Homo sapiens: one gene and its partners. The protein of the gene in region 2 purifies or fractionates together with the protein of the main gene of each other region. This does not show direct contact. Each region holds a gene or a part of one and is shown on either strand. Other genes may lie near its edges.

The links.
Region 1: the proteins of UPF3A (region 2) and CA1 purify together in Homo sapiens (affinity purification with mass spectrometry; 2 studies listed by BioGRID and IntAct, with this or other methods). This does not show direct contact.
Region 3: the proteins of UPF3A (region 2) and HBD purify together in Homo sapiens (affinity purification with mass spectrometry; 2 studies listed by BioGRID and IntAct, with this or other methods). This does not show direct contact.
Region 4: the proteins of UPF3A (region 2) and AGGF1 purify together in Homo sapiens (affinity purification with mass spectrometry; 2 studies listed by BioGRID and IntAct, with this or other methods). This does not show direct contact.

Annotation. Positions count from the first base shown.
Region 1 is NC_000008.11:85,332,971-85,340,479, reverse strand, and holds part of CA1 (carbonic anhydrase 1), read left to right. Parts: intron 1-2,030; coding exon 2,031-2,228; intron 2,229-3,416; coding exon 3,417-3,535; intron 3,536-6,859; coding exon 6,860-6,955; intron 6,956-7,509. UniProt on the Homo sapiens protein: Catalyzes the reversible hydration of carbon dioxide. Can hydrate cyanamide to urea.
Region 2 is NC_000013.11:114,276,623-114,284,784, forward strand, and holds the start of UPF3A (regulator of nonsense transcripts 3A), read left to right. Parts: upstream 1-4,978; 5' UTR 4,979-5,017; coding exon 5,018-5,224; intron 5,225-5,288; exon of another isoform or gene 5,289-5,398; coding exon 5,399-5,505; intron 5,506-5,772; exon of another isoform or gene 5,773-6,030; intron 6,031-6,214; coding exon 6,215-6,321; intron 6,322-7,471; exon of another isoform or gene 7,472-7,736; intron 7,737-8,162. UniProt on the Homo sapiens protein: Involved in nonsense-mediated decay (NMD) of mRNAs containing premature stop codons by associating with the nuclear exon junction complex (EJC) and serving as link between the EJC core and NMD machinery.
Region 3 is NC_000011.10:5,232,229-5,239,233, reverse strand, and holds HBD (hemoglobin subunit delta), read left to right. Parts: upstream 1-4,750; 5' UTR 4,751-4,800; coding exon 4,801-4,892; intron 4,893-5,020; coding exon 5,021-5,243; intron 5,244-6,141; coding exon 6,142-6,270; 3' UTR 6,271-6,396; downstream 6,397-7,005. UniProt on the Homo sapiens protein: Involved in oxygen transport from the lung to the various peripheral tissues.
Region 4 is NC_000005.10:77,033,220-77,040,728, forward strand, and holds part of AGGF1 (angiogenic factor with G patch and FHA domains 1), read left to right. Parts: intron 1-1,198; coding exon 1,199-1,301; intron 1,302-2,321; coding exon 2,322-2,524; intron 2,525-3,336; coding exon 3,337-3,501; intron 3,502-6,311; coding exon 6,312-6,500; intron 6,501-7,509. UniProt on the Homo sapiens protein: Promotes angiogenesis and the proliferation of endothelial cells. Able to bind to endothelial cells and promote cell proliferation, suggesting that it may act in an autocrine fashion.

The DNA of each region.
Region 1 (7,509 bases), on a different chromosome or scaffold from region 2:
ATCTCCATCAGAGCTCCTGGGTGACCAGGTGCACTGTCAATGAGCAGTGATATTTTGAAAGGAATCTTCTTTTACTGAGGAGTAGAGCTCAACAGTGGGCTTGAAAATAGTCAGTAAACCAGGCTGTAAATAGATGTGCTGTCATTCAGGCTTTGTTGTTCCTTTTACAGAGCACAGGCAGAGTAGATTGAGTATAATTCTTAAGGGTCCTAGGATTTTCAGAATGTTAAATGAGTGTTGGCTTCAACTTAAAGTCAACAGTTGCATTTGACCCTAACAAAAGAGTCAGGCTGTTTTTAAAACTTTGAAACCATGCATTGACTTCTCCTCTCTAGCTATGAAAGTCCTAGATGCTATCTCCTTCCAAAAGAAGGCTGTTTTGTCTGCTCTGAAAATCTGTTGTTTAGTGTAGTCACCTTCATTGGTTATCTTAGCTAGATCTTCTGTATAACTGTCTGCGGCTTCTGTATCAGCACTTGCCACATCACCTCACACTTTCATGTTATGGAGATGGCATCTTTCTTTAAATCTCATAAACCAACCTCGACTAGCTTCTAACTTTTCTTCTGCAGCTTCTTTGCCTTTCTCAGGCTTCACAGAATTAAAAAGAGCTATAGCCTTGCTCTCATTAGGATTCGGCTTAAGGGAATGTGGTTGTTGGTTTTTGATCTTCTATCCAGACTATGCAAACTTTCTCCATATCAGCAATAATGCTGCTTTGCTTTCTTATCATTTGTGTGTGCACTGGTGTAGCACCTTTAATTTTCTCCAAGAACTTTTCTTTTGCATTCACGGCTTGACTAACTGGCACAAGAGGTCTAGTTTTTGGCCTGTCTCAACTCTTGACATGCCTTCTTCACTGAGCTTAATCATTTCTAGCTTTTGATTTAAAGTGAGAAACATGTGACTCTTCCTCTCACTGGAGTACTTACAGGTCATTGTAGGGTTATTAAACAGATTAATTTCAATATTCTTGTCTCAGGGAATAGGCAGACTTACAGAGAGGGAGATAGATGGGGAATAGCCAGTCAGTAAAGTAGTTAAAACACACACAACATTTACAGATTAAGTTCATCATCTTACTTGGACATGGTTTATGGTGCCACAACACTATTATAATAGTAACATCAAAGATCTCCATGATAGATATATGAACAATTAAAAAGTTTAAAATATTGTGAGAATTACCAAAATGTGACACAGAGACGTGAAATAAACACATGCTGTTGAAAATATGCCCCTAATAAGCTTGCTTGATGCAAGGTTGCTACAAATCTTCAGTTTGTAAAAAATGCAATATCTGCAAAGAACAATAAAGTGAAGCGCAATAAAATGAGTTAAGCTTGTATTAGAAATCTATTGCTAATAATAAAATATGTATGGTCTGATTCTATAGACTATGAGTATAGATCTATATTAGTAGTATTGACAAATACACTATTTTATAGTACAATATAGAAAAGGGGCCGGGTGCAGTGGCTCATGCTTGTAATCCCAGCACTTTGGGAGACCAAGGCAGGTGGATCACTTGAAGTCAGGAGTTCGAGACAAGCCTGGACAACATGATGAAACCCCATCTCTACTAAAAATACAAAAAAATTGGCCAGGCATGGTGGCATGCTCCTGTAATCCCAGCTACTTGGGAAGCTCACGCATGAGAATCGCTTGAGCTTGGGAGGCAGAGGTTGCAGTGAGCCAAGAGCGCATCACTGCACTCCAGCCTGGGTGACAGAGCAAGACTCTGTCAAAAAAAAAAAAAAAAAGAGAGAGAAAGAAAGAGAGAGAGAGAAAGAAGGAAAGAAAGAAAGAAAGAAAGAAAGAAAGAAAGAAAGAAAGAAAGAAAGAAAAAGAAGGAAAGAAAGAAAGAAAAGGGACATCTTCAAACACAGAATTTCTATTAATCTTAAGAGAATATCATTTAATACACTGAAATAAACCCTAATCTAATAAGCAAACAGGTAACTATACTCCTAAAACTTGGAATCAAGCATTTGATAAGACATTGATTTTACACGTGTTTGTCCTGGTAGGTCCTGAACAATGGAGCAAGCTGTATCCCATTGCCAATGGAAATAACCAGTCCCCTGTTGATATTAAAACCAGTGAAACCAAACATGACACCTCTCTGAAACCTATTAGTGTCTCCTACAACCCAGCCACAGCCAAAGAAATTATCAATGTGGGGCATTCCTTCCATGTAAATTTTGAGGACAACGATAACCGATCAGGTGAGCTGAAAGACCCTTCTGATATTTTTTTCTTACAGTCTACTGGGAAAATTTAAAAAATAGTGCTCGAGAAATATGACACCCATTCTAAGTCTTTTGTGCTTGTGTGCAGCATTGCTGTAATCTAGTGAGGCATCTTGGACTTCTGGAAAACGCCCAGGTGGTAAAGACAATTTTTGGAACTCCCAGCTCTCTATTTTCAGTCTTGCTTCTCAAAGTCACCATCACGTCTCTTCTCGTCATTCCAGTATCTGTATGCTCACTTCACTGTCTCTGAATAAACAGCATTTATCCAGAAAGGTCTAGTGAACCAGTCATTACAAATATAACAACTAAAAAGAAAAATATTTTCTAATTGGGATGAGTATGAATGAGCACAGTAGAAAAGAAAAACAAAGCAGTGACTGAATTATCCTTATACTCCAGAATCTAGAACAAATTTTGCTACAGAGTTAGCTTTTCATGAAGGTTTATTGAATATTTTATTAAATGACAATTCCATAAAACAGTTCTACTGATTTAAAATGCTAAATTTGTTTATGAGTTTCTGAGGCCTAAATTTTAGGCACCTTGGGACTATGTCCATTATTAATATTAGATTAGGTCTGGTATTATATGCATTTAACTAATATTATCATTGGATAGGCTCTCCAAACAAAGTTTTATAAGTGCCCCACTGCCCCACTGGTACTCTCTCTTGGTCCCTGGCCAGGGATTCTCAACAAAGCTGTCAAGATATACTTTTGTGTCTTCATCAGTTACACAGTAGGTGATGAATGGTTCATTACTCAAAATAAACTACTAAAGATTTTTGATGCATACTGTCTTTGTTGAAAGAATGAAGGAATAAACTTGCAAATTAAAGGAGATTCAAGGACAGCCCTGTAATGATATAATTCACTCACATTGCAATATGCTTTCTAGGAGTTAGAAATAGGTAAAATTGTAGCTCGTGTGGCTGGGAAATGTGTATAATTCATGGAATAGCTCATCAATGCCACAGTCAGGGGTGCACCATACATATGACTGTCATCCTCATGGATGTGGGGGAAAACAAGATGAAAGTTTAGGCACTAATGTTTGTTTTCACTTCTACTCAATACAATTTAGTGTTGGTTTATATTAAATGCAAAGATAAGCTAGAGTTTGTGGAGCATCAGGCTAACAATCGGTTCCCTTTTCTTCCAGTGCTGAAAGGTGGTCCTTTCTCTGACAGCTACAGGCTCTTTCAGTTCCATTTTCACTGGGGCAGTACAAATGAGCATGGTTCAGAACATACAGTGGATGGAGTCAAATATTCTGCCGAGGTAATGTAATTTAGTAAGTGAGAGATAATTACCCTGAGAGTACTCCCAGAAGCAGCTTCTCCCTTCTTTTCTAAGACAACATCATAATGACTCCAAAGGAATGGGTATTCCAGTAAGGAACTCCCAGTTTCCATTAAAATCAAGCACAGACACATAATGTTTGGCAAGAGAGAGAAAATTTTCATGTGGAAAGAGGCAGCTAAACTCCTGAGCCCAAGATTCACCTTTCCCTGAGAATGCCTCAAAAGCTGTTACCTTGATATCAAAGCTAGCTTCAAAGGATGACACTGCTCCTCCTTTAAAGCTGTAACCCCAAATGGAACACACCATCATTTCCTCTTTATTTAAACGTTCAAGTTTGGATACACCAGCAGTATCGTTGTGGCCAAGCCAGGACAATTCAATGAGACTCTACTAAGAGCTCGAATTTAACCACAGCAATGGTCACAGAACAGCATACACCTAGATGAGGGTCTAACCTTCCCTGGCTCTTAACCTGCTCTCACATGGAAGTTTGTGACTTATTTCAGGACATTATTATCTGTATATCCAAAGAAAAATGGAGACATGTACACCAAACTCTCAGCAGAGGGTCTGGGAGATTAAAATGTGAGAAATTTTGCTCTTTATTTTAGGTGTATGAATTATATAATACATGTGTACCCATATATGCAGGTTGACTTTTTAATTTTACTTTCATCAAATGAATTCTATAATATATATAATTTTGCAACCTGCTTTTTTTCTATTTACCCACTTATCATGACAATTTTTAAAAATCAGAAGATTGAATTCCACCTTTTTTACTGTCAGCATAGTATTTCATTTGGGTGAATGCATCAGAATTTATTTAACTGCCTTCTATTGATGAACAATCACAACATATGATTTTTGTTATATTGGTTTCTTTTGCTTTTATTAAAAAATGCTTCAGTGAATATATCTGTACATATATCTTGTGCACTAGTGAAAGTAATTATGTACGATAGATTTTTCCAGGGCAGACTGCTACGTTACAAAGTATATGTATCTTCTATTCTGATAGAACATCAGCAGATTGTATACAAATAAAACTTGCTTTACCTTGTGTTGTAAAGCATGACTAACACCTTTCAATGCTGCAGAAATCTGTTAATTGGGTTTTCCCCTCCATAAAATTGAAGGTAGATTAAAATTAAATGGACTAAGAGCCTAAATTAGTATTATCTTTTTGGAAGGATAGTTGGTAGTATCCAAGAAAACTAAATTAGTGACTCTCTCATCTAAATTGAGAAAAATCAATATAATCCATGCTAGATATTGAGAGACACTTAGCCACAAAGTTTAGCATATGATTAAATTCAGTTCAATAAACCTTCTTGAGATACCTATAAGACAATAGGTTTGAGAGGCAATGCAGCCTGTTGCTTAAGAATGCAAGTACCCAGCTGACTGCCAGGGTTTGAATCAAAGCTCGACCACTTACTAGCTGTACAAATTCAAACAAATCACTCTACGCTCCAGTATTCCTATATAGAGAATCTAGATAATATAGCATTAGTATCTATCTTAATAATTGTTGACAGCATGAAAAGAGTTAACCCATACAGAGCACACTTAGACCAGCACCTTTCATGTTGCATGTGCTGAATAATGTTACTTAACATTTCCGTAGAGACACAAGCAAACATTTTTCAAGCAGGGAAGTATAGGCATAAATTATTGTGATTAAATAAATATAGTAGCAAATGGCAGTATGACTATTCACAAAGAAGCATAGGAATACAGATGTAAGAATAATTAATTACAAGTAGGGACAGAATCTACACTGGCATGGTCAGAGGAAATTGCAATAAGTGATCCCTCTTAATATACTGTCTTAATCATTCTTTTTTCATTCAACAAATATTCACTGGACACCTACAATATGCCAGATACTGTCTTTATTTTTTGTCGTTATTTATTTATTTATTTTTGAGAAAGAGTCTTGCTCTGTTGCCCAGGCTGGAGTCCAGAGGCACGATCTCGGCTTACTGCAACCTCCTCCTCTCAGGTTCAAGTGATTCTCCTGCCCCGGCCTCCTGAGTAGCTGGGATTACAGGCATGTGCCACCACACCCGGCTAATTTTGTATTTTTAGTAGAGATGGAGTTTTACCACGTTGGTCAGGCTGATCTCGAACTCCTGACCTCGTGATCCGCCCGCCTCGGCCTCCCAAAGTGCTGGAATTACAGGCGTGAGATACTGTTTTTAAAAAGTACTTGCTATCAGAACTTGCATTTGATAGGGAAAATAAAAATTTCAGAGGAAGGAAGGCAGGAAAGAAGGGAGGGAGGAAGGAAGGAAGGGAGGGAGGAAGGAAGGGAGGGAGGGAGGAAGGGAGGGAGGAGAATAGGAAGAAGAGAGATTAAATAAGTGATATGGATAGAACTGTTTTGATTTGTGGTGGTTACTTTATATTGGATGATCAGGAAAGAATTATTTAAGGAGTGGCATTTGAGTTCAACCCTAATTCAAGACAAAAGTCTGCCATTTGAAGATCATGGGGAAGGAAATTCCAGAGAAAATTAGAAGCTAATGCAAAGGCTCAAAGTTGTGAACATGTGACGAAGTATAACCTGTAAGATGTGAATGTTGATAGGTGGGGAAAGCAAGAAATGAATGATAGTTGTTGTACTTATTGATTGAGCATTTAAAAACCTTATCCTAAGAAGGTAAAATTAAGCAGGTTTGGCAAGAAGGAAATCTAGAGTTCTATTTTGGCCAGATTAAGTCTGAAACATCTATTAGACATCCATGTAGAGATATCAAGAATATATCAAGAATACATATATACATACTTGGATGTACAAATCTAGAGTTTGCAGAGACGTTAAGCTGGAGATATTTATTTGAGAGATGTTTGGAAAGGGCACGAACGTGCCTGAAAGAATCTGTTCTTGGCCAAGACTCCCAGGAACTCCAGGAACCCTTTCTCATAAATTTACTATAAAGTACCTCATGTGAGAGAAAATTACTTCAATTATTTTCCCAAAAACTAGTTAGTCATATTTCCTGATCTTTTCAAAACAAAGAGAGATACATTTAAAGGAGTAATATTAAATAACAATATCGTAGGAAAGGACATTTTGCTTACTGGTTCCAGGTTTTGTAATCTCTACCTGGCACACAGATAACCCTTCCTACGAGTGAGAATGTAACTCTTCTAATCCACTGGATAAAGGTTCACATAAGTTTTATGTATCTAAGCCAAGATACATCATCATATGGTAACAAGTTAACTTATAACTTATCTTTTTTCATCACACTGGTATAAATAATTAATTAACCATAGTATCATTTTTAGCTTCACGTAGCTCACTGGAATTCTGCAAAGTACTCCAGCCTTGCTGAAGCTGCCTCAAAGGCTGATGGTTTGGCAGTTATTGGTGTTTTGATGAAGGTGAGTTACAGATAATTACACAGCTCTGCTTCCACTGTCTTACCAATTAGACCTCAAAATAGAAGGAAATAAGGCAACATATATTTTAGAATTTCTTATTTTAAAGTTTCCATTTAACCGATGACTACAGGTGAACAAATAGTTCCCTAGTATTTTATTGCTTGGTTTTATCTCTGCTTTTCCCTCTTAAAGAGAGAAATGAGTTTCAGGTGGAGGTGAGATAGAAATGTGTTCACAGGGAAAAAGGAATTTCTATTTTCCAGCTCTTCCAAATTCCCTTTCCTCTAAATTTCCTACATCATAGATTCTGAAATTTATTAATTTAATGTCTCATCAGGAAAGAAATATTATTAAATATTAATAAGGAAACCTGAAATCATAGATTCAGAAATTTATCAATTTAATATCTCATTAGGAAAGAAATAGTAAGAGAATTTTTTCTTACAAAGAATATTCAATTGATTTTTTAAATGGGAGATGTTGCTCAAATCCTCTATAGAAGAATCCCTGAAAAGTTCTATGAAAAAGTTATTATTAAATTGGGTATGCCCGGG
Region 2 (8,162 bases):
AAATTTTCTGATAGATGGTATTGGGGAAATTGCTGCAGCCTGAGGGGGTCGAGACAAAGGCACGCATCGACGCTGGTCCCTCAGGGCACCATCATGTGACCAAAATGCACAGGGTCCTCGCTGAGGACAGGCTGCAGCAGGTAGGTTGGCTGTCCATCCACACCACCCTCTTAACCAAAAAGCTGCAGCCTCTGCATCATCAAGCCTTCCCCGGGTTGCAGTAAGCATCTGATGAGGTGACAGAGTTAGAAAACAGTTGATTCTGCTAATTTGTTGTCCAGCTTAATGGTGGTTTTGGTGGAAGAACCAATTAATCCCTGAAGCTTCCTGCCCTGCCGTTTTCTGTGACGTCACTGCTGTCTTAAAACTATAACTAAATATTAGTCATATTAAAAAAAAACTATAGGCTGGGCGCAGTGGCTCACGCCTGTAATCCTAGCACTATGGGAGGCTGAGGCGGGCGGATCACGAGGTCAGGAGATTGAGACCCTCCTGGCTAACACGGTGAAACCCCGTCTCTACTAAAAATACAAAAAATTAGCCGGGTGTAGTGGTGGGTGCCTGTAGTCCCAGCTACTCAGGAGGCTGAGACAGGAGAATGGTGTGAACCTGGGAGGCGGAGCCTGCAGTGAGCTGAGATTGCGCCACTGCACTCCAGCCTGGGTGACAGAGCGAGACTCCATCTCAAAAAAAAAAAAAAACAAAAAACACAACTATAGCTAAATAATAGTCATATAAAATAAATTGCAGTACTTATCAAATTTCAGTTTAACTTTTGAAAGTCATAGTATTTAAGGTAACAAACTCAGCTATTAACACATTTTATGATGCTTTAAAAAGCTCAAAGAATTGAACAGCTATTGGTGCTAAGTTATAATTGTGTTCTATAAAATAAATGTGATTCACTATTCTTTGTAATTGCTACCTCCTGGTATGTATAAGATAAAGAAATTGAATTTTACCTATTTTCTCACATACTAATTTGGTGACGTATCCTTTTAACTGTTGGCAAATGTTATAGGCTCTCTTGGCCTGTTTTTTATTCCATTATTTTAACATCTTTTGCAGTTTTCTCACATAAGATTGAAAACTGAATCTATGTGAAATAAGCAGGTGTCTATCAGTAATGATATTTAAAATATGTCACAGCTGGATTCCCTGTTTTGTAGGAGCATCTGAAATCAGCCATAGCGGAACAGATGGAAATGCCCCATTTGTTGGGGTCAAGAAGGAAAAGTTCTTACATAGTTTTACACATTTGGCTGGTGATTGATTTTGTGAAAAGATATGTTAAAATTTGTTTGTTTTTTGAGACGGAGGCTCACTGTGTTGCCCTGGCTGGAGTGCAGTGGCGTGATATCGGCTCACTGCAACCTCTGCCTCTCGGACTCAAGCAATCCTCCTGTCTCAGCCTACTGAGTAGCTGGGATTACAGGCTCCTGCCACCACACCCAGCTAATTTTTGTATTTTTAGTAGAGACGGGGTTTCACCATGTTGGCCAGGCTGATCTCAAACTCCTGACGTCAAATGATGCACCTGCTTCAGCTTCTGAAAGTGCTGGGATTACAGGCTTGAGCCACAGCGCCCGGTCTGAAAAGATACGTTTAAAAATTTTATTTTAAAAAGGTGCTACAAGACAATTCTACTAAATCTCTAATCTTTAAACTTTTTTTTAACCTCTTCACTGAGATTAGGAAAAGAATCTTGATATGACTCCTAGGTGATAACTGTATAAACAGACAACACCCCCACTCTTCATCATTCTAATAAAGAGAGAGGATTATATGCTTCATTTGTTTAAAGTCCTTTATTCAAACTCTCCTACTACTAACATCAGAGGACATGTTACTCTACTTTTTCATAAAAACAAACTTGTGTAGTTATTAGAAAGCATCTATTCACGGCATCATTAACAAATTAGGCATTATACAGAAGTGAATTTTCCAGGCAACTGAGGTGCTGCCTTAAACACAAAACTTTTTATCTTAACCTATCTGAAGTGTATTCCCTGTATTTCTACCTTCTGAAGCAGAACAATGATAGCATTCATTTCTTGAGGATCCCCAGGTGTTAACTCTAGTAAATCTTTTAAGGAGGGCTTTGTTCCCCTTCATACTGATGAGGGTCTAGCACTGTTGTATGGTGCATTGAAGACTAGCATTCAGACCCCATCCTGTCTCCATTCATCATGGTGAAAGTCAGGTATCGCGCTGGAAGTTAATGCAGTAATACATTTAGAGACCATGAGTTACCCCACGCTAAATTAGACTCAAACTAATGCGTTTTCATGTTTTCATTTTTAAATGGCTTTTCTGTCTCTCTGTCAGGCATCATGTATGCCTCCCCTGTCTTGAGTTGGGGCTAAAAAATCAAGTGACTGAACTTAAGGTAATTATTTTTAAAACAACTAAAATGAAAGTATTATATTAATAAAGTGCTGAGTTTTTTACATTTATTTTTCCTGCCAGAGCAAAAAAAAAAAAAAAACCATTTAGTTTTCTCATTGATCACTGTTAGAATTTTTCTGGTTTCTGTAAGTGAATGTCAAAAGGTTCAGACACTTGAGTAAGCTGTAATTCGGATCAGCAGCAGTGTTAACACCAGTGTTTAGGCCTCTGAGAGTAAAAACAATGTGTCGTACTGCCAAGTATTGTTCCTGTTACTACCCAATTCTTCAGTATCTCAGGACACAGTTTATCCTAAAAAGGTGTCCTGTTTGCTAACTACAGTGGCTGTGTTATCGTTAAAGGAAATACTGGGAAGTGTTACGGTCACCAGCTTCAAGTCACTGTCATCTACCAATGAGATAGGGGCTACCAAGTAAAATGTAGCCCAGGGCCACATTCACAGATGGAAGTGTTCAGTTAAGCAAAAGTAAAGTTACATACTAAAAGCCCACATGAAGAAGGATTTGGAGATATTTCTTCCTGCTTTGCTTTGGCTGTAAAGTTCTGTACATGTATCAAACAGAGCATTTCAACAGGCTGGCTAATGTGTAGGAAGCTAGCTTTTCTTTGTGATATAATTTGTCATGTAAAATCATAAGCTATTTTACAAGTGTATTTCATTCACTGTATCTTAAAATTCATATGGTTTTATTTAAAGATAATTTCATCAAACAGCTGAATTCTAAAATCCTACCTTTTTTTCAAAATCATTTTTCAGAACTTTGCAATAACAGGAAGTAAAGAATCAGAAGGGTGTTAAAAAATTGACTTGGGGGGAAAAACATTTGGACATTTTGCTGGCTAGGTTTACGAAATATACACATCCAGCAAACATGTGAGTCCCTTTAGGGTACAGTGCAGTGAAGGGAGAAGTGGAAATACTCAAGGTTCTGGGGAAGGTCAAATGAAGGGTCCCTCACATTGGCTGAGGCCAACCTGGCTTCAGAGGTGTGCAGAGGCACCAGGCCGAGAACAGGGCTTTGCAGTGGTGAGGGCAAAACATGAACACAAGAAATACCCTAAGTTACTGACCTGGTTGTGCCTGGTGACAGATGGGACCAGCTCTTTTCTCCATTTGGTAATTTTGGAAAATTTGGCAGAGTTAATAAAGAAATCCCCTTGGTGCAAGATTGCTACAATAAGAATCTATTATAGATGGCAGATGTGAAGTTCACAGTCCTTTTTATTATCCTAACCTAGTAACATGACTAGAGGTAAAATTAAATATTGAGTTAGATGATTGTTTAATATTTTAAAACCAGAGGGAAGACATACAAATAGATTGAGAGCAGTTTCTTTCTAAAGATAATCAGAATATATCTCCTATATTTTAAACACTGCAGGAACAGTCAAAATTTTAAAATAAATGGTTTCCACATTTTTTTATCCCCATCTCTCCCCCTGACTATATAGTAAAATATTTTATTTGGCAACCACGTTTTCCTACTTTTAATCACACATCATCAGAGCTTTTCATCAGCCTAACTAGTCTTCCTACTCACTGAGTTGTGACGAAAGCCTGGTCTAGGCACTTTTACCACGGCCATGTTTTTGTTAAGATCCCTGCAGACTGTGAACTATGAAAACCAGCCCCTGGCCCCGCTTGTGGGTGCTGCAGAGCCGCGTGTGAACTGCTCCTAGGAAACCGCGTCTCTGGGCAGGGTGGCTCTCGGGCCGTGGATCCGCCTAAAAGCTTTTCTGCCAGTGACGCCCTTGGTCTCTGGATGTGTTCACGCCTCAGTGATTTTACTCTCTGGTTTCTTGTGTGTGCTTGAGATTCTTGAGAGAAAGCGTGCTGCAGATGAAAAATGCAGCCTACATGAAAAAGAGAAGGGGAAAGCCATTTTAAAATAACTTCCATGTAAGTTACTGTAATCAAAGTGCTGCTGCCTGTGTGTTCATAAAAAAATATGTGCAAGGGCCCGGAGCGGTGGCTCATGCCTGTAATCCCAGCACTTTGGGAGGCCGAGGTGGGCGGATCACTTGAGGTCAGGAGTTACCGAGACCATCCTGGCCAACAAGGTGAAACCCCGTCTCTACTTTAAAAAAACAAAAAAATTAGCCAGGGGTGGTGGCGCGTGCCTGTAGGTCCCAGCCACTCAGGAGGCTGAGGCAGAGGCTGCAGTGAGCCGAGATCGCGCCACTGCACTCCGGTCTGGGCGACAGAGCGAGACTGTCTCCAAAAAAATTAAGAATTCAAATGTGAACCCGGCTTTCATGGCGCCCCGGCCACGGAGAGCCTGGGGGAGTGGGATAAAAACGGTGCTGGGATGGGAGGGCGGCTTGTCCGCGAACTCCTCCCACCACGCCCGGACCAAAGCCGCCGGCGCCCCGCTTCCGGGGCCGCCCTAAACCGCGGCCGCCGCTCCCTGAGGGGCCGCCTGACCCGGCGGAAAGCCAGGCTGTGTGGCCGGAGGTCACCACCCCGACCCCGACTAGTCCCGCAGCGCCTGACCCCTTCGTGGGCGGCCCCGACCGCCGCGGCTCGAGGAGGGGCGGGGCTGGGGCGGCCGAGCTCTCGCGAGGTTTCGTCGGGGGCTGGCGGCTGCGGCTCGGCGGAGAGTGCGGCATGCGCTCGGAAAAGGAGGGGGCCGGAGGCCTTCGGGCGGCCGTTGCCGCGCGGGGCCCGAGCGGGAGGGAGAAGCTGTCGGCCCTAGAAGTGCAGTTCCACCGCGACTCGCAGCAGCAGGAGGCTGAGACGCCGCCAACTTCGTCCTCCGGTTGCGGGGGCGGTGCGGGCAAACCTCGCGAGGAGAAGAGGACGGCCCTGAGCAAGGTGGGGACGGGGGCGGGGCGCGCAAACCTCGCGAGGAGAGGACGGCCCTGAGTGGAGGGAGGGGAGGGAGGGGAGGGAGGGGCGGGGGCCGGGCCTCCCAGCGCGGTACGCGGTGCCTTTTGAGCTCCTTGTCCACGCTCCGCCCCGGTGGGAACGGCCGCGCGCTCCCCGCAGGTGGTCATCCGCCGCCTGCCTCCGGGCCTCACCAAGGAGCAGCTGGAGGAGCAGCTGCGCCCGCTGCCAGCACACGACTACTTCGAGTTCTTCGCCGCCGACCTGAGGTGAGGCCCGCCCCGAGGGGAGGAAGAGAGGGCGGAACCCAGAGCTCGGCGGCGGTGGCCGTCTCGTTGCCTTACGTTCCTTACCCTGATTTCTCCTATATGGGAGTCGTGTGAGCTTTTTGAATAAATACATTTCAGTAAAACGTGTCCGTTCCGTCAAAGAAAAATACCACCAACAAAGAAACACAGATGTGGTTTACATGAAAAATGCGGATGATTTTCAGACGGCTAACGCTTAGGAAAGCGGGTGCCTTTGAAAGGACCAGCGTTGCCCGCCCGGCGCCTCCCGGGCTTCCCTGCTCGTCCGCGGACGGGGCGCTGCGGGGCCGGGGGGCGCCGGCTCTTCCTGTGGCCTCCACGCTGGTGCCGCAGCCAGTGCGGTTTTAAATACCGGAGAAGGTCCCCAAGTCAGGAGAGTCTCTCGGCGCCACGGGTTCCTCTGGGAGTGCGCCCTGGCCTTGCCTTAGGGTTTCAGCCTCGGAGGACCGGTTCTGGGCAGTGGAGAAGGGACCTGAGTTCTGCCTTGTAAAGTTAACGTTTTGCGTTTGTTTTTGCTAAAGAATATCCAAGTTGTTACAATTAACTGAGATGATTTGGCACAAAAGTTTTATCTAAAGTAGTTTGTTGTGCCCAGAAAAGGAAAAAGAGGCTAAATTAATGGACTATTGTATTTTTCACTGACCATTTTCACTGTTATCTCTTATTTCAGTCTTTATCCTCATCTCTACTCAAGAGCATACATTAATTTTAGGAATCCTGATGACATCCTTCTTTTTAGAGATCGTTTTGATGGATATATCTTCCTTGACAGCAAAGGTTGGATTATTGGTTTTTAAAAATCTATTATAATCTGTAGGTATACTAATGAAGTATTGCTAGAATATTCGTGCTTTTTAAATTATTATTATTTTTTGAGACAGGGTCTTGCTCTGTTGCCCAGGCTGGAGTGCAGCAGCCGCAATCACGGCTCACTGCAGCCTCACACTGCGGCTCAAGCAATCCTCCAGCCTCCTAGGTAGCAGGGACCACAGGCGTGTGCCACCATGATCGGCTGATTTAAAAAAAAAATTGTGTAGAGACGGGGGTCTCACTGTGTTGCCCAGGCTGGTCTTGAACTCCTGGCTTCAAGTGATCCTCCCACCTCAGCCTCCCAAAGTGCTGGGATTACAGGCGTGAGCCACAGCATCCGGTCTATTTGTGCATTTTAATTAAAAAGTTCTCAGACTAAAATAAGTTTATAAATTTTGATTATGTTACTGTAATTATGTGCAGATATTAAAAATTGAAATTATTTAATTTTATTATTTAATCCAAAAAAATTCCAGAAATTCTGTGTAATAGTGACAGCCTATTTATGTATTATCATCAGAGAATGAAGGTTTTCATGAGTGAGTTTGTTGCATGAGAGAACTTGATCTTTTTAGGTTCTAAAGCTAAACTATTTTACCTGATAGGAATTTTCCAAAATGTACACTGACTTCTATCTTCCTAAACAGCATCCTTCATGACTGTACCATTTATGATAATGTCACCAGGAAGTCACTGCTGTTAAACAGCTTTGCCTGCGGAGACAGCAGTCTTCAACTCTACTCTCAATAGTTCCCTTATCAGTACTTCTAGGGTTCTGCTTTCATCTTTTTCCTTCTCTTCTCCTGTCAGGCTGTCTGCTGTTGTGTTCCTGGCTGTCAAGTTTGTATACCTTTCACAGCAAGTTGTTTTCTGCCCTCCCCTCCCCAGCCACCCTCTTCCGACTCCACGTGTTTTGACACTGATGAGTGTTTTCTTTTTCTCCAATGAGGGGTAAGGACTAGAAAGATTGTTAAAAAAATAAGCATTAGCCAAGCTAGTTCCTGTGACTAGAAGCAAATGTGATGCTTGAACTGACCTTTGTGTTCATTGCTCATTTATTCAGTAACTTACTGAGTTTCCCTTTTTCACTTAAAAAATATTGGTGGGCCGGGCACAGTGGCTCACACCTGTAATCCCAGCACTTTAGGAGGCCAAGGCGGGTGGATCACGAGGTCAGGAGTTCGAGACCGGCCTGAGCAACAACGTGAAACCCTGTCTCTACTAAAAATACAAAAATTAGCCAGGCATGGTGGCAGGCGCCTGTAGTCCCAGCTACTCGGAAGACTGAGACAGGAGAATTGCTTGAACCTGGGAGGCGGAGGTTGCAGTGAGCCGAGATCATGCCACTGCATCCCAGCCGGGGCGACGGAGCAAAAAAATATGTATGTGTATGTACGTGTATGTATATGTGTGTGTGTGTGTAAAATATGTGTAACATGGCCAGGTGTGATGGCTCACTCCTGTAATCCCAGCACTTTGGGAGGCCGAGGAATGTAGATCAGTTGAGGTCAGGGGTTCGAGACCAGCCTGGCCAAGATGGTGAAACCCTGTCTCTACTAAAAAAAAAAAAAAATTAGCCAGGCATCATGAGGCATGCCTGTAATCTCAGATACTTGGGAGACTGAGGCATGAGACTCACTTGAACCCGGGAGGCAGAGGTTGCAGTGAGCCAAGATCGTGTTACTACACTGTAGCCTTGGTGACAGAGTGAGACTCTGTCTCAAAAAAAAAAAAAGTCACAAAATTTATACCATACTGTTTTCCACAGTGACTGCGCCATTTTAGGTTCCCACCTGTAGTGAGCAAGG
Region 3 (7,005 bases), on a different chromosome or scaffold from region 2:
AGTCAACAAGCATGTGTCATGCATTTATTCACATCAGAATTTCATACACTAATAAGACATAGTATCAGAAGTCAGTTTATTAGTTATATCAGTTAGGGTCCATCAAGGAAAGGACAAACCATTATCAGTTACTCAACCTAGAATTAAATACAGCTCTTAATAGTTAATTATCCTTGTATTGGAAGAGCTAAAATATCAAATAAAGGACAGTGCAGAAATCTAGATGTTAGTAACATCAGAAAACCTCTTCCGCCATTAGGCCTAGAAGGGCAGAAGGAGAAAATGTTTATACCACCAGAGTCCAGAACCAGAGCCCATAACCAGAGGTCCACTGGATTCAGTGAGCTAGTGGGTGCTCCTTGGAGAGAGCCAGAACTGTCTAATGGGGGCATCAAAGTATCAGCCATAAAAAACCATAAAAAAGACTGTCTGCTGTAGGAGATCCGTTCAGAGAGAGAGAGAGACCAGAAATAATCTTGCTTATGCTTTCCCTCAGCCAGTGTTTACCATTGCAGAATGTACATGCGACTGAAAGGGTGAGGAAACCTGGGAAATGTCAGTTCCTCAAATACAGAGAACACTGAGGGAAGGATGAGAAATAAATGTGAAAGCAGACATGAATGGTAATTGACAGAAGGAAACTAGGATGTGTCCAGTAAATGAATAATTACAGTGTGCAGTGATTATTGCAATGATTAATGTATTGATAAGATAATATGAAAACACAGAATTCAAACAGCAGTGAACTGAGATTAGAATTGTGGAGAGCACTGGCATTTAAGAATGTCACACTTAGAATGTGTCTCTAGGCATTGTTCTGTGCATATATCATCTCAATATTCATTATCTGAAAATTATGAATTAGGTACAAAGCTCAAATAATTTATTTTTTCAGGTTAGCAAGAACTTTTTTTTTTTTTTTCTGAGATAGAGCATTGCTATGGTTGCCCAGGCTGGAGTGCAATGGCATGATCCAGGCTCACTGCAACATCTGCCTCCCAGGTTCAAGCGATTCTCCTGCCTCAGCCTCCCAAGTAGCTGGCACTACAGGCATGTGCCACCACCATGCCTGGCTAATTTTCTATTTTTAGTAGATAGGGGGTTTCACCATGTTGGTCAGGCTGATCTCGAACTCCTAACATCAGGTGATCCACCCTCCTCGGCCTCTGAAAGTGCTGGGATCACAGGCGTGAGCCACCACACCCAGCCAAGAATGTGAATTTTGTAGAAGGATATAACCCATATTTCTCTGACCCTAGAGTCCTTAGTATACCTCCCATACCATGTGGCTCATCCTCCTTACATACATTTCCCATCTTTCACCCTACCTTTTCCTTTTTGTTTCAGCTTTTCACTGTGTCAAAATCTAGAACCTTATCTCCTACCTGCTCTGAAACCAACAGCAAGTTGACTTCCATTCTAACCCACATTGGCATTACACTAATTAAAATCGATACTGAGTTCTAAAATCATCGGGGATTTTGGGGACTATGTCTTACTTCATACTTCCTTGAGATTTCACATTAAATGTTGGTGTTCATTAAAGGTCCTTCATTTAACTTTGTATTCATCACACTCTTGGATTCACAGTTATATCTAAACTCTTAAATACAGCCTGTATAATCCCAATTCCCAACTCTGATTTCTAACCTCTGACCTCCAACCTCAGTGCCAAACCCATATATCAAACAATGTACTGGGCTTATTTATATAGATGTCCTATAGGCACCTCAGACTCAGCATGGGTATTTCACTTGTTATACTAAAACTGTTTCTCTTCCAGTGTTTTCCATTTTAGTCATTAGATAGCTACTTGCCCATTCACCAAGGTCACAGATTAAAATCATTTCCCTACCTCTAATCAACAGTTCGATTCTGCTTCAATTTGTCCCTATCTATTAATCACCACTCTTACTGCCCAGTCAGGTCCTCATTGTTTCCTGAACAAGAGTAGATGCTATTCTTTCCACTTTTAGACCTTATCCTGGCTGGATGCGGTGGCTCAGGCTTGTAAACCCAGCACTTTGGGAGGCCAAGGCAGGCAGATCACTTGAGGTCAGGAGTTCAAGACCAGCCTGACCAACATGGTGAAACCCCATCTCTACTAAAAATACAAAATCAGCCGGGCGTGTGGTGCATGCCTGCAGTCCCAGCTATTCAGGTGGCTGAGGCAGGAGAATTGCTTGAACCCAGGAGGCAGAGGTTGCGGTGAGCCTAGATTGCACCATTGCACTCTAGCTTGGGCAATAGGGATGAAACTCCATCTCAGAAGAGAAAAGAAAAAAAGACCTTATTCTGTTATACAAATCCTCTCAATGCAATCCATATAGAATAAACATGTAACCAGATCTCCCAATGTGTAAAATCATTTCAGGTAGAACAGAATTAAAGTGAAAAGCCAAGTCTTTGGAATTAACAGACAAAGATCAAATAACAGTCCTCATGGCCTTAAGAATTTACCTAACATTTTTTTTAGAATCAATTTTCTTATATATGAATTGGAAACATAATTCCTCCCTCACAAACACATTCTAAGATTTTAAGGAGATATTGATGAAGTACATCATCTGTCATTTTTAACAGGTAGTGGTAGTGATTCACACAGCACATTATGATCTGTTCTTGTATGTTCTGTTCCATTCTGTATTCTTGACCTGGTTGTATTCTTTCTGAGCTCCAGATCCACATATCTAAGTACATCTTTTTGCATTTTACAAGAGTGCATACAATACAATGTATCCAAGACTGTATTTCTGATTTTATCGTACCACTAAACTCACAAATGTGGCCCTATTCTTGTGTTCACGACTGACATCACCGTCATGGTCCAAGTCTGATAATAGAAATGGCATTGTCACTTTCTTCCCTACTGCAACAGAAGCCCAGCTATTTGTCTCCCATTTTCTCTACTTCTAAAATACATTTCTTCACTAAGTGAGAATAATCTTTTAAAGACACAAATCAAACCATGCCACCACCTTTCTTGAATTATTCAATATCTTTCGTTGGCTTCCAGGTTACAGAAAAATAACTTGTAACAAAGTTTAAAGGTCATTCATGGCTCCTCTCTACCCTATTTTATAACATTTCCCCTTGTGATCAGAATCTCAGGCACATCATCCATCTTTCTATATACAAATAAAGTCATATAGTTTGAACTCACCTCTGGTTACTTTTAATCAACCAAATGCTGTAAAATGCATTTGTATCGCTACGTGTTAAGCAGTAGTTGATTCTTTTCATTTCTGTGTAATATTCTATTCTTTGACTATACCGTAATTTATCAATTCTACTGTTGGTAAGCATTTAAGTGGCTACCGGTTTGAGGTTTTTATGATTATTGCTGTCATAAGCATTTCTATACATGTCTTTGGATACACACATGCATGTGTTTCTGAATATCTAAAAATGTAATTGCTAGGTAATAGACTTATCAAGCATCCAGCATTTGTGGATACTATTAAAGGTTTTCCAAAGGGGTTATACTATTGTACAGTGTCACCAACAGAGTTTGAGTTTCTATTGATCCATATCACCACCAAAATTTGAACTGTCAGTCTTATCTCTTCTCTTGTCTCTTTTTTCCTCTTTTTTTTCCTTCCCTTCCCCTCTCTTCGTTTCTTTTCTCTCCTCTTCTCTTCTTTCCTCTCTTCCCTTCCCTTTCTCTTTCTCTTCCCTATCCCTTCTCCTCTCCTCTCCCCTCCTTTTTTCTCCTCTCCTCTCCATTATTTATTTTTCCTTCTTCTCCTCCATCCCTTCCATCCTCTCTCTTCCCCTCTTCCTTCCTTCCTTTCTCCATTTCTTCCTCCTCTTTCCTTCAATCCTTCCTTTTGGATATGCTCATGGGTGTGTATTTGTCTGCCATTGTGGCATTATTTGAATTCAGAAAAGAGTGAAAAACTACTGGGATCTTCATTCCTGGGTCTAATTCCACATTTTTTTTTAAGAACACATCTGTAAAAATGTTCTGTACTAGCATATTCCCAGGAACTTCGTTAAATTTAATCTGGCTGAATATGGTAAATCTACTTTTCACTTTGCATTCTTTCTTTAGTCATACCATAATTTTAAACATTCAAAATATTTGTATATAATATTTGATTTTATCTGTCATTAAAATGTTAACCTTAAAATTCATGTTTCCAGAACCTATTTCAATAACTGGTAAATAAACACTATTCATTTTTTAAATATTCTTTTAATGGATATTTATTTCAATATAATAAAAAATTAGAGTTTTATTATAGGAAGAATTTACCAAAAGAAGGAGGAAGCAAGCAAGTTTAAACTGCAGCAATAGATTTGTCCATTCCAACCTCTCAAAATTCCCTTGGAGACAAAAATCTCTAGAGGCAAAGAAGAACTTTATATTGAGTCAACTTGTTAAAACATCTGCTTTTAGATAAGTTTTCTTAGTATAAAGTGACAGAAACAAATAAGTTAAACTCTAAGATACATTCCACTATATTAGCCTAAAACACTTCTGCAAAAATGAAACTAGGAGGATATTTTTAGAAACAACTGCTGAAAGAGATGCGGTGGGGAGATATGTAGAGGAGAACAGGGTTTCTGAGTCAAGACACACATGACAGAACAGCCAATCTCAGGGCAAGTTAAGGGAATAGTGGAATGAAGGTTCATTTTTCATTCTCACAAACTAATGAAACCCTGCTTATCTTAAACCAACCTGCTCACTGGAGCAGGGAGGACAGGACCAGCATAAAAGGCAGGGCAGAGTCGACTGTTGCTTACACTTTCTTCTGACATAACAGTGTTCACTAGCAACCTCAAACAGACACCATGGTGCATCTGACTCCTGAGGAGAAGACTGCTGTCAATGCCCTGTGGGGCAAAGTGAACGTGGATGCAGTTGGTGGTGAGGCCCTGGGCAGGTTGGTATCAAGGTTATAAGAGAGGCTCAAGGAGGCAAATGGAAACTGGGCATGTGTAGACAGAGAAGACTCTTGGGTTTCTGATAGGCACTGACTCTCTGTCCCTTGGGCTGTTTTCCTACCCTCAGATTACTGGTGGTCTACCCTTGGACCCAGAGGTTCTTTGAGTCCTTTGGGGATCTGTCCTCTCCTGATGCTGTTATGGGCAACCCTAAGGTGAAGGCTCATGGCAAGAAGGTGCTAGGTGCCTTTAGTGATGGCCTGGCTCACCTGGACAACCTCAAGGGCACTTTTTCTCAGCTGAGTGAGCTGCACTGTGACAAGCTGCACGTGGATCCTGAGAACTTCAGGGTGAGTCCAGGAGATGCTTCACTTTTCTCTTTTTACTTTCTAATCTTACATTTTGGTTCTTTTACCTACCTGCTCTTCTCCCACATTTTTGTCATTTTACTATATTTTATCATTTAATGCTTCTAAAATTTTGTTAATTTTTTATTTAAATATTCTGCATTTTTTCCTTCCTCACAATCTTGCTATTTTAAATTATTTAATATCCTGTCTTTCTCTCCCAACCCCCTCCCTTCATTTTTCCTTCTCTAACAACAACTCAAATTATGCATACCAGCTCTCACCTGCTAATTCTGCACTTAGAATAATCCTTTTGTCTCTCCACATGGGTATGGGAGAGGCTCCAACTCAAAGATGAGAGGCATAGAATACTGTTTTAGAGGCTATAAATCATTTTACAATAAGGAATAATTGGAATTTTATAAATTCTGTAGTAAATGGAATGGAAAGGAAAGTGAATATTTGATTATGAAAGACTAGGCAGTTACACTGGAGGTGGGGCAGAAGTCGTTGCTAGGAGACAGCCCATCATCACACTGATTAATCAATTAATTTGTATCTATTAATCTGTTTATAGTAATTAATTTGTATATGCTATATACACATACAAAATTAAAACTAATTTGGAATTAATTTGTATATAGTATTATACAGCATATATAGCATATATGTACATATATAGACTACATGCTAGTTAAGTACATAGAGGATGTGTGTGTATAGATATATGTTATATGTATGCATTCATATATGTACTTATTTATGCTGATGGGAATAACCTGGGGATCAGTTTTGTCTAAGATTTGGGCAGAAAAAAATGGGTGTTGGCTCAGTTTCTCAGAAGCCAGTCTTTATTTCTCTGTTAACCATATGCATGTATCTGCCTACCTCTTCTCCGCAGCTCTTGGGCAATGTGCTGGTGTGTGTGCTGGCCCGCAACTTTGGCAAGGAATTCACCCCACAAATGCAGGCTGCCTATCAGAAGGTGGTGGCTGGTGTGGCTAATGCCCTGGCTCACAAGTACCATTGAGATCCTGGACTGTTTCCTGATAACCATAAGAAGACCCTATTTCCCTAGATTCTATTTTCTGAACTTGGGAACACAATGCCTACTTCAAGGGTATGGCTTCTGCCTAATAAAGAATGTTCAGCTCAACTTCCTGATTAATTTCACTTATTTCATTTTTTTGTCCAGGTGTGTAAGAAGGTTCCTGAGGCTCTACAGATAGGGAGCACTTGTTTATTTTACAAAGAGTACATGGGAAAAGAGAAAAGCAAGGGAACCGTACAAGGCATTAATGGGTGACACTTCTACCTCCAAAGAGCAGAAATTATCAAGAACTCTTGATACAAAGATAATACTGGCACTGCAGAGGTTCTAGGGAAGACCTCAACCCTAAGACATAGCCTCAAGGGTAATGCTACGATTAAACTCCAACAATTACTGAGAAAATAATGTGCTCAATTAAAGGCATAATGATTACTCAAGACAATGTTATGTTGTCTTTCTTCCTCCTTCCTTTGCCTGCACATTGTAGCCCATAATACTATACCCCATCAAGTGTTCCTGCTCCAAGAAATAGCTTCCTCCTCTTACTTGCCCCAGAACATCTCTGTAAAGAATTTCCTCTTATCTTCCCATATTTCAGTCAAGATTCATTGCTCACGTATTACTTGTGACCTCTCTTGACCCCAGCCACAATAAACTTCTCTATACTACCCAAAAAATCTTTCCAAACCCTCCCCCACACCATTTTTTATATTT
Region 4 (7,509 bases), on a different chromosome or scaffold from region 2:
TAAAAAGTTTTGCTTGAGAATGATAACTGGAGAACCATAATATGTATAGGGTTTGTACAAGACCCCAAAATAGCCTTGTGCAAATTACTTTGTCTTGTCTGATATTTTATGTGTAAAATTGGGGTTAGGACAACGAATATTTCAGGTGGTTTTGTGAATTAATGAGATGTTATCTAAAGCATCAAGTATAGTGCCCAGCATGTAGTAGATACTAAGTAATCTAATTCATAGTGATAGGGACAGTAGCCAGAGCCAGGATTTAGGGCAAGGCAATCAGGCTCCTAGGGCGAGGAATTTAATGGGGCACTAATTCCCAGCGATGAACTCTGTACTTGCATGAATCAGAGGAGCGCCTCAGATTTTTCACGATCAGTGTCTTGCTTCCCTCACTGTAGTTCCTGCCCTAGTATTAGCAACAGATCAGTTTTATCACCTTTCTCTGTTTAAGCTTTATGTATCATTAAATAAATATTTAAAAGCTTGTTTTTTAGTTGGTTTCTTGTGTGTAGTAGACATTGTCTCACATTGAGGTCCTCTCAGGCTGAGGTGTATTGACTGAGGCAGCGTATTGACCGAGGCAGCATGTTACTTGCTTTTGGGCACTTCCACACACTTGTTTCTCTCTGTCCTATGTAGTAGCATCCTTTTAAGGGTATTTTAGTGTGTGAAGTACATGGAGGACAGATGCCCCTCTCAGGCCGTCACCTTCCCTGTTCTCTTCTGCTACAGTTACTTAATTATAGGACTACTGTTTAATGAAAAAATGTATTAAAGCTTGTAAGTGGCATTAACATATTCAGGTGGATAGTTAATTCCCAGTGGAGAATACCAAATGAGTATTAGATAATCCAGTAGGGATGAGAATTTGTAAATTTTGAATTTTTGAATTCTTTAGAACTGACTTTAAAATGTTAACATAAAAGCATTCTTATTTGTTAGAAATAAAGGACCTTGTTCACAAAGTCTCATTATTTAGTTCGATTTTTGGAGGAGATATTTGGACATTTAGTAAGAGAGATTAGGAATAAAAATGCCTTTTAAATGTATAAAGTAAAATAATAATTTTAGCTTTTCTGAAAGGGAAACTTGCTGCTCTTGACATTTCTCTAAAACAATTATTTGTAACGGTAGGAGACTGGTATATATATTATTAGATTGTTACATGATTTCTTTTTCCTAAAGCCTTGTTTTCTCTCAGGTGGAAGAACTCAGTAAAATACTCCAACGTGGGAGAAATGAAGATAATAAAAAGTCTGATGTAGAAGTACAAACAGAGAACCATGCTCCTTGGTCAATCTCAGGTATTTAGCTTATAGTGAGGATATGCTAACACTGTTACATTCAAATCATGCTAATGTTGCGTTTTCTTTTAATTTAAAATAAACAAAGATCAAGGTAAATGAGAATTGTTAATACTGTTGACGTCTCTCCATATGATAATGGTATTTTCGGATAATCAATTTGTTCTTCTGGAGGAAAAAGTAGAAATGTATTGTCATTCCTGTGATTTCTATAATGTTGCTAATGTTTTCAGTGGCACACTCACTGAGTAATTTTTGGCAGGCAGTTAGCCATCTACTTCCATATCTGCCTTCCTTGTGACCAGGGGCATTTGTTTTCTTGTTGATGTGTTCTAATTAGAATTATGTATAGTATCAGTCTCTCACCCTTGTGGGAATGGTGAGCCCACCACCATGGCCTTATGAATGGCATTATGTTATAAGGCAAAATAGCTGAGATACTGAGTTTTAATATATATGTGTCACAAGAAGAAATCATCTTTCCTATTAAGTTTTGCCTTGCTTCAGTCAGGACATAATTTTTGGCTAAATTGCTAAACATAGCAATAGTGCTAACTTTTCTTATCTGCATGATACGTTTTAAAAAGTCTGCATGGGGAGAGAAATTTGCCAAAAAATAAATCAATCCCTAATTCCTTGCCTTTATTTCATTATCAGTTGATAAGCAACAGTATTAAGGTATCCAGTTAGAAGTTAAGAGTTAAGTTTTTTAAATAGAACACAACCTATCTACAGATTTTTATTTTACTCTTGCTGTAGAAAATGTAACCAACTTACCTTTTTTTTTTCTTTTTAACTGACAGCTAGGGTCTTGAAGGAGACATTAGAATCAAAGATACACACTTCTGCAGATTTATCTGTGCCATCTGTTTTAATCTTTTAAAATTTGTACAGTTGTAAAAATCATGATTTATTTGAAGTATGTGCTTTTTGTGTTTAAATGCCAGTGTTTTGTAGTTAAGTCCTTTTTATATACATTATTCTAATATGATACGATTTCACTTCATTTTTTTGCTACAGATTATTTTTATCAGACGTACTACAATGACGTTAGTCTTCCAAATAAAGTGACTGAACTGTCAGATCAACAAGATCAAGCTATCGAAACTTCTATTTTGAATTCTAAAGACCATTTACAAGTAGAAAATGATGCTTACCCTGGTACCGATAGAACAGAAAATGTTAAATATAGACAAGTGGACCATTTTGCCTCAAATTCACAGGTAATAAAATGCTAAACATGAAACTGTTGATGCCCAAGAACCTGTCCTTCTTTGTTGTTATTATGTGGAAAGATAGACTTCTTTGGTCCGTCACAGCATATATAAGGGTTATAAACATTCTTATGTGTAATTATGCAAAGAATGTTGTAGTTTTTCCAAAACCAGAATTAGAACTTCTTCATATATGTAGTGGTTTTCCTACTACATTGTGTTCCAAAATTTTGTGATCTACATAAACTAAAACAAAATTTGTCCAGATATTTTGACTGAACAAAAGAACTGTGGACAACAATACCACATTTACACCTAAAAAAATTTTAATGTTCCTTTATGTCAGATACCCTGCCACTATTCAAATTTCCCTGAATCTATAAATTTGTTTTTATAGTTTGTTTGAATTAGGATCCCTATTGTGTTTGATATATCTCATTTAATCTACAGTTTTCTCCTTCATTTGTCTTTTTGAAATTTTTTTTCCAATTGAACATATAATCATTGAAGAACCTAGATCTTTGTCTTAGCCAATATTTCAGGGTCTGTATTTTGTGGATGGCTTCCCTGTGGCATCATACATTTATTCTCGAATAATTGTCACTCATTTTTAGTGCCTTCAAAACTGGGTCAAAGTTGAAGTTACTGACACACTAGTAAATGTTGTAATAAGTGGTTCAAGTCATAATTGATAGTCATGCTTTTCCTTTGTAGAAATTGAAGTCGTTACTTAAACATAGTCTCAGGTCTTGAGTTCAGCCAACTTTTTAATTGATATACAGAAGCTTTTGTCTTATTTGGCATGACTATATCTTTTATAGGAGCCAGCATCTGCATTAGCAACAGAAGATACCTCCTTAGAAGGCTCATCATTAGCTGAAAGTTTGAGAGCTGCAGCAGAAGCGGCTGTATCACAGACTGGATTTAGTTATGATGAAAATACTGGACTGTATTTTGACCACAGCACTGGTTTCTATTATGATTCTGTAAGTATCTCAGACCTTTTTGTTTTGTTTTGTTTTTGAGACAGTCTCCCTCTGTCACCCCGGCTGGAGTGCAGTGGAGTGATCTCAGCTCACTGCAACTTTCACCCCCCAGGTTCAAGTGATTCTTATGTCTCAGCATCCCAAGTAGCTGGGATTACAGGCATGCACCACCACACCCTGCTAATTTTTTGTATTTTTAGTAGAGGCAGGGTTTCGCCATGTCGGCCAGGCTGGTCTCGAATTACATCTCAGACCTTTTAATACTGTATGATACATACTCAGTGCCTGATATCAAATATTAAACCCTAAGCCGAAGTAAGAAAGCAAAAAGCTGCATTTAAAATTATATTTGACTCAAAACTATTTGACAGAAGAATTCTAAAATAGCTTATGATGCTACACTTCTAAGTTTTTAAAATAAGGTTAAGGTTAAAATAAATTTTATTGTGATTATTATAGACAATGTTTTGGAGAAGTCTTTATGTATAAAAATAACAGACAAAAATACTGGAGCTTTTGTTAATAAAAGCAGATAGTTAACTACATCGTAAATATTTTAGAACCTAAACCAGTATTTTTTTCATAGAATTAATAGAGAAGTGAGGTTAATTTTAGGCTTGGAATGAGAATTTTAAAAATTATATCAAATACTTTATGAATTCATTTTAGGCCACATAAGGAGACTTCTTTCTTGAATTCTTAGTAGTATGTTTATTATTAGCCAGTGTTTTATATCCTGTGCCTTTTAACTATTTCACTTTAAACATTCAGTCTGTTGGCTAGGCATGGTGGCTCACTCCTTGTAATCCTAGCACTTTAGGAGGCTGAGGCAGGTGGATTGCTTGAGTCGAGTGCAAGACCAGCCTGGGCAACACAGTGAGACTCTTTCTATAAAAAATTTTAAAAGTCAGCTGGATGTAGTGGCTCACCCTCTAGTCCCAGCTACTCAGGAGGCTGATGTGGGAGCGTCGCTTGAGCTGGGAAGATGGAGGCTGCAGTGAGCCATGATTGCACCACTGCCCTCCAGACTAGGTGACAGAGTGAGACCCTGTCTCAAAAAACAAGCAAACAAAAATCAATCTGTTAGCAATGAGAACTAGGGAATTAATATGGGATCTAAAATATAATGGACCACTGACTAGGATAGAACCAGAAAATAAAGTTCTTGATTTATAATACAGTGTTATAGCTGTTGAAGTCTAATAATTATATTTCGTTGAAGATTTGATGACAATGATAGAACTCAGTCACATACCTCAAACTCAAGAATCTAGTAATGTAATCTGGTTTTCTGAGGAATTATAGAATGTGGTACACAAAAGTGGAGTTGACGTTCATCATTCCTGTTACTGGAACTATTGTTATCTAGAGAACATAAGATAATACTAAATATCTCAATTAACATAAGAGGTGTCATTAGTTTGTCAATCTGCATATGGTAAACTGTAAGTCCTTTGTAAAGAGAGGGTTTTCTTTCATGGGGGTTGCTAATTGACAATGCTAATTAATAACCAGGAAATTAATGTTTAAACACTTATCCAAAGGGAGTAGTTATTTAGTTTCTAGGAAAACAATAGTTTCAAGTAGACATTAGTCTTTGTCAATCTTCTGCCTGTCTTTCTGTATCTTTTCTCTTGACATCAGTTGTTTTGTAAATGGTTAGTACGTTCTGCAGGTTATATTTCTGAGTAAATTAGGAACTTCATTGTGTTGCCATTTTCATTGTGCTAATATTTTAATAAATTTTTTTTATATTTTGAAAATGTCTATATTTTGGACTGATAAACAGATTTAAAAGGTTTGAATTATAAAAGTTCCATTATTACTAGAAATAAAGATTGGAAAGCCTCCACTCAGTTTCTTAGTTAAGAGAAAGATGGTGAGAAATCTAAATATTTTTTGTAAGAGATCTGCAAAATGCATGGATTAAAGACAATAAATTGCAAGTGTCAATAGTTAGAAAAATAAATTATTCTTTTTCAGGAAGTTTTAGTTGCTCAATCTCAGTACATTAAAGATGTTTCCGGGTCTGGTCTGCATGGATTTAGGATGTAAATAAAATATAGACTGTTCAATTAAATTTGGTTTTAGAGTACTGGCCAGTATATCATAAATATAGGTGATTACCTAATTTTATCTTTCTGGTTTTTAAATCTGTAATTTGCCAAATTCATTTATGCATGGTTGCTTGTAAGTCTTATTTACTATAGAACTGATTAATTAGTGGAGACAGTTTATTGATTGCATTTTATAGAATGTTATTTTTTGGTATGCATGAACTTTATTTTCAAAATTTTCTTCTCTAATTTTAAGTTATGAACATCAAAAGACAAATCTTTGTTTTATGACATTGAGAGGAGGGTTTAGGGGTTTATACTGCCACACCATTATTGTGCAGTCATTAAGAATCAGGAGTCTAGAATTGCGCTCATATGGTCAGCTTTTTCTTATGCTTGCTTTAGTTTTCATGCCTTTAAAAGTATTATCAATTTTTTTAATGTATTAAGTGGAACCATATGAAATTGCTGTTTCTTATAAGTTAAAAGTGGTCAAGTATTGACAATTTTATATGATTAAATTTAATATTTAGATTTACTTGTTTCTCACACTAGGAAAATTAGATCAGTTATTGAATGGTAAAGTATTTTGGAAGATTAAAGCATTTTTTATTGTTATCTTTAATTCATTGTCTTCTGAAAATACTATAGTTGTTCAAAGAAATATTTACCACATTTGAATGTATTTGGCATTTTCGTTAAGTTTATTTTATCTTACATGAATAGAATTTATTTTTTTCTTGACTTTCAAAGGAAAATCAACTCTATTATGATCCTTCCACTGGAATTTATTACTATTGTGATGTGGAAAGTGGTCGTTATCAGTTTCATTCTCGAGTAGATTTGCAACCTTATCCGACTTCTAGCACAAAACAAAGTAAAGATAAAAAATTGAAGAAGAAAAGAAAAGATCCAGATTCTTCTGCAACAAATGAGGAAAAGGTAATGTCTTTACAATTTTAAAAATTGACATAATGGTGATAACATGATAATTAAGACAAAATTTTTTATGAAACTGACAATCATTCAATAACTCTGCATTTCAAACATACCCATTAAGATAACCTAGGAAAGTTTAGATGGAGCAAACATGGACTTTTTCATAAACTCTGTCACTAGAAATAGAAAGCATTTCTTAAAATTTGAAGGAGATAGATTAAGGTCAGATAAAATATCTCGTATATAGTTTGGAAGAAGAATTCAGATCCTCAGTTGATAAGTTGATGTCAATGCACAGTTCATAATAAAAGATAAACACAGTTTATAGGTAGACATAGATACAGGTTCAACTTTCTTAGTTATGTGGAGCAATTTTTTACTTACTAGGACAATTTTTTTTTTTTTTTTTGAGACAGAGTTTCACTCTTGTTGCCCGGGCTGGAATGCAATGGCGTGATCTCAGCTCACCGCAACCTCCGCCTCCCAGGTTCAAGTGATTCTCCTGCCTCAGCCTCCCGAGTAGCTGGGATTACAGGCATGCACCAACACGTCTGGCTAATTTTTTTGTAATCTTAGTAGAGACGGGGCTTCTCCATGTGGTCAGGCTCGTCTCGAACTCCTGACCTCAGCTGATCCTCCTGCCTCTGCCTCCCAAAGTGCTGAGATTACAGGCATGAGCCACCGCACCCGGCCAGGAAAATATTAAAAAAAAAAAAAAAATCCATTGCTGACAACTGTGGAGTGAGATAACATATTTATTAGGATTAATAGTTTAAATGGCCTGCAAGACAATGGTTAAGAAAGCGATAGTTACATTTAATTTAAAAAAGTATTATGTAGGCTTTCAGATGGTACTTGTAAAGACTAAGGGGAACCCCAAAAATGCTTATGATGATGCAATGTTAAATTGAAAGAAGGAAAATATAAAAAGTTAACAGTGTTCTTTATTTCTACTCTCTAAACAGGTAAGTTTGGTGGTTTATAGGTTATAAAGGAGGCTTGTTTGTTTTAT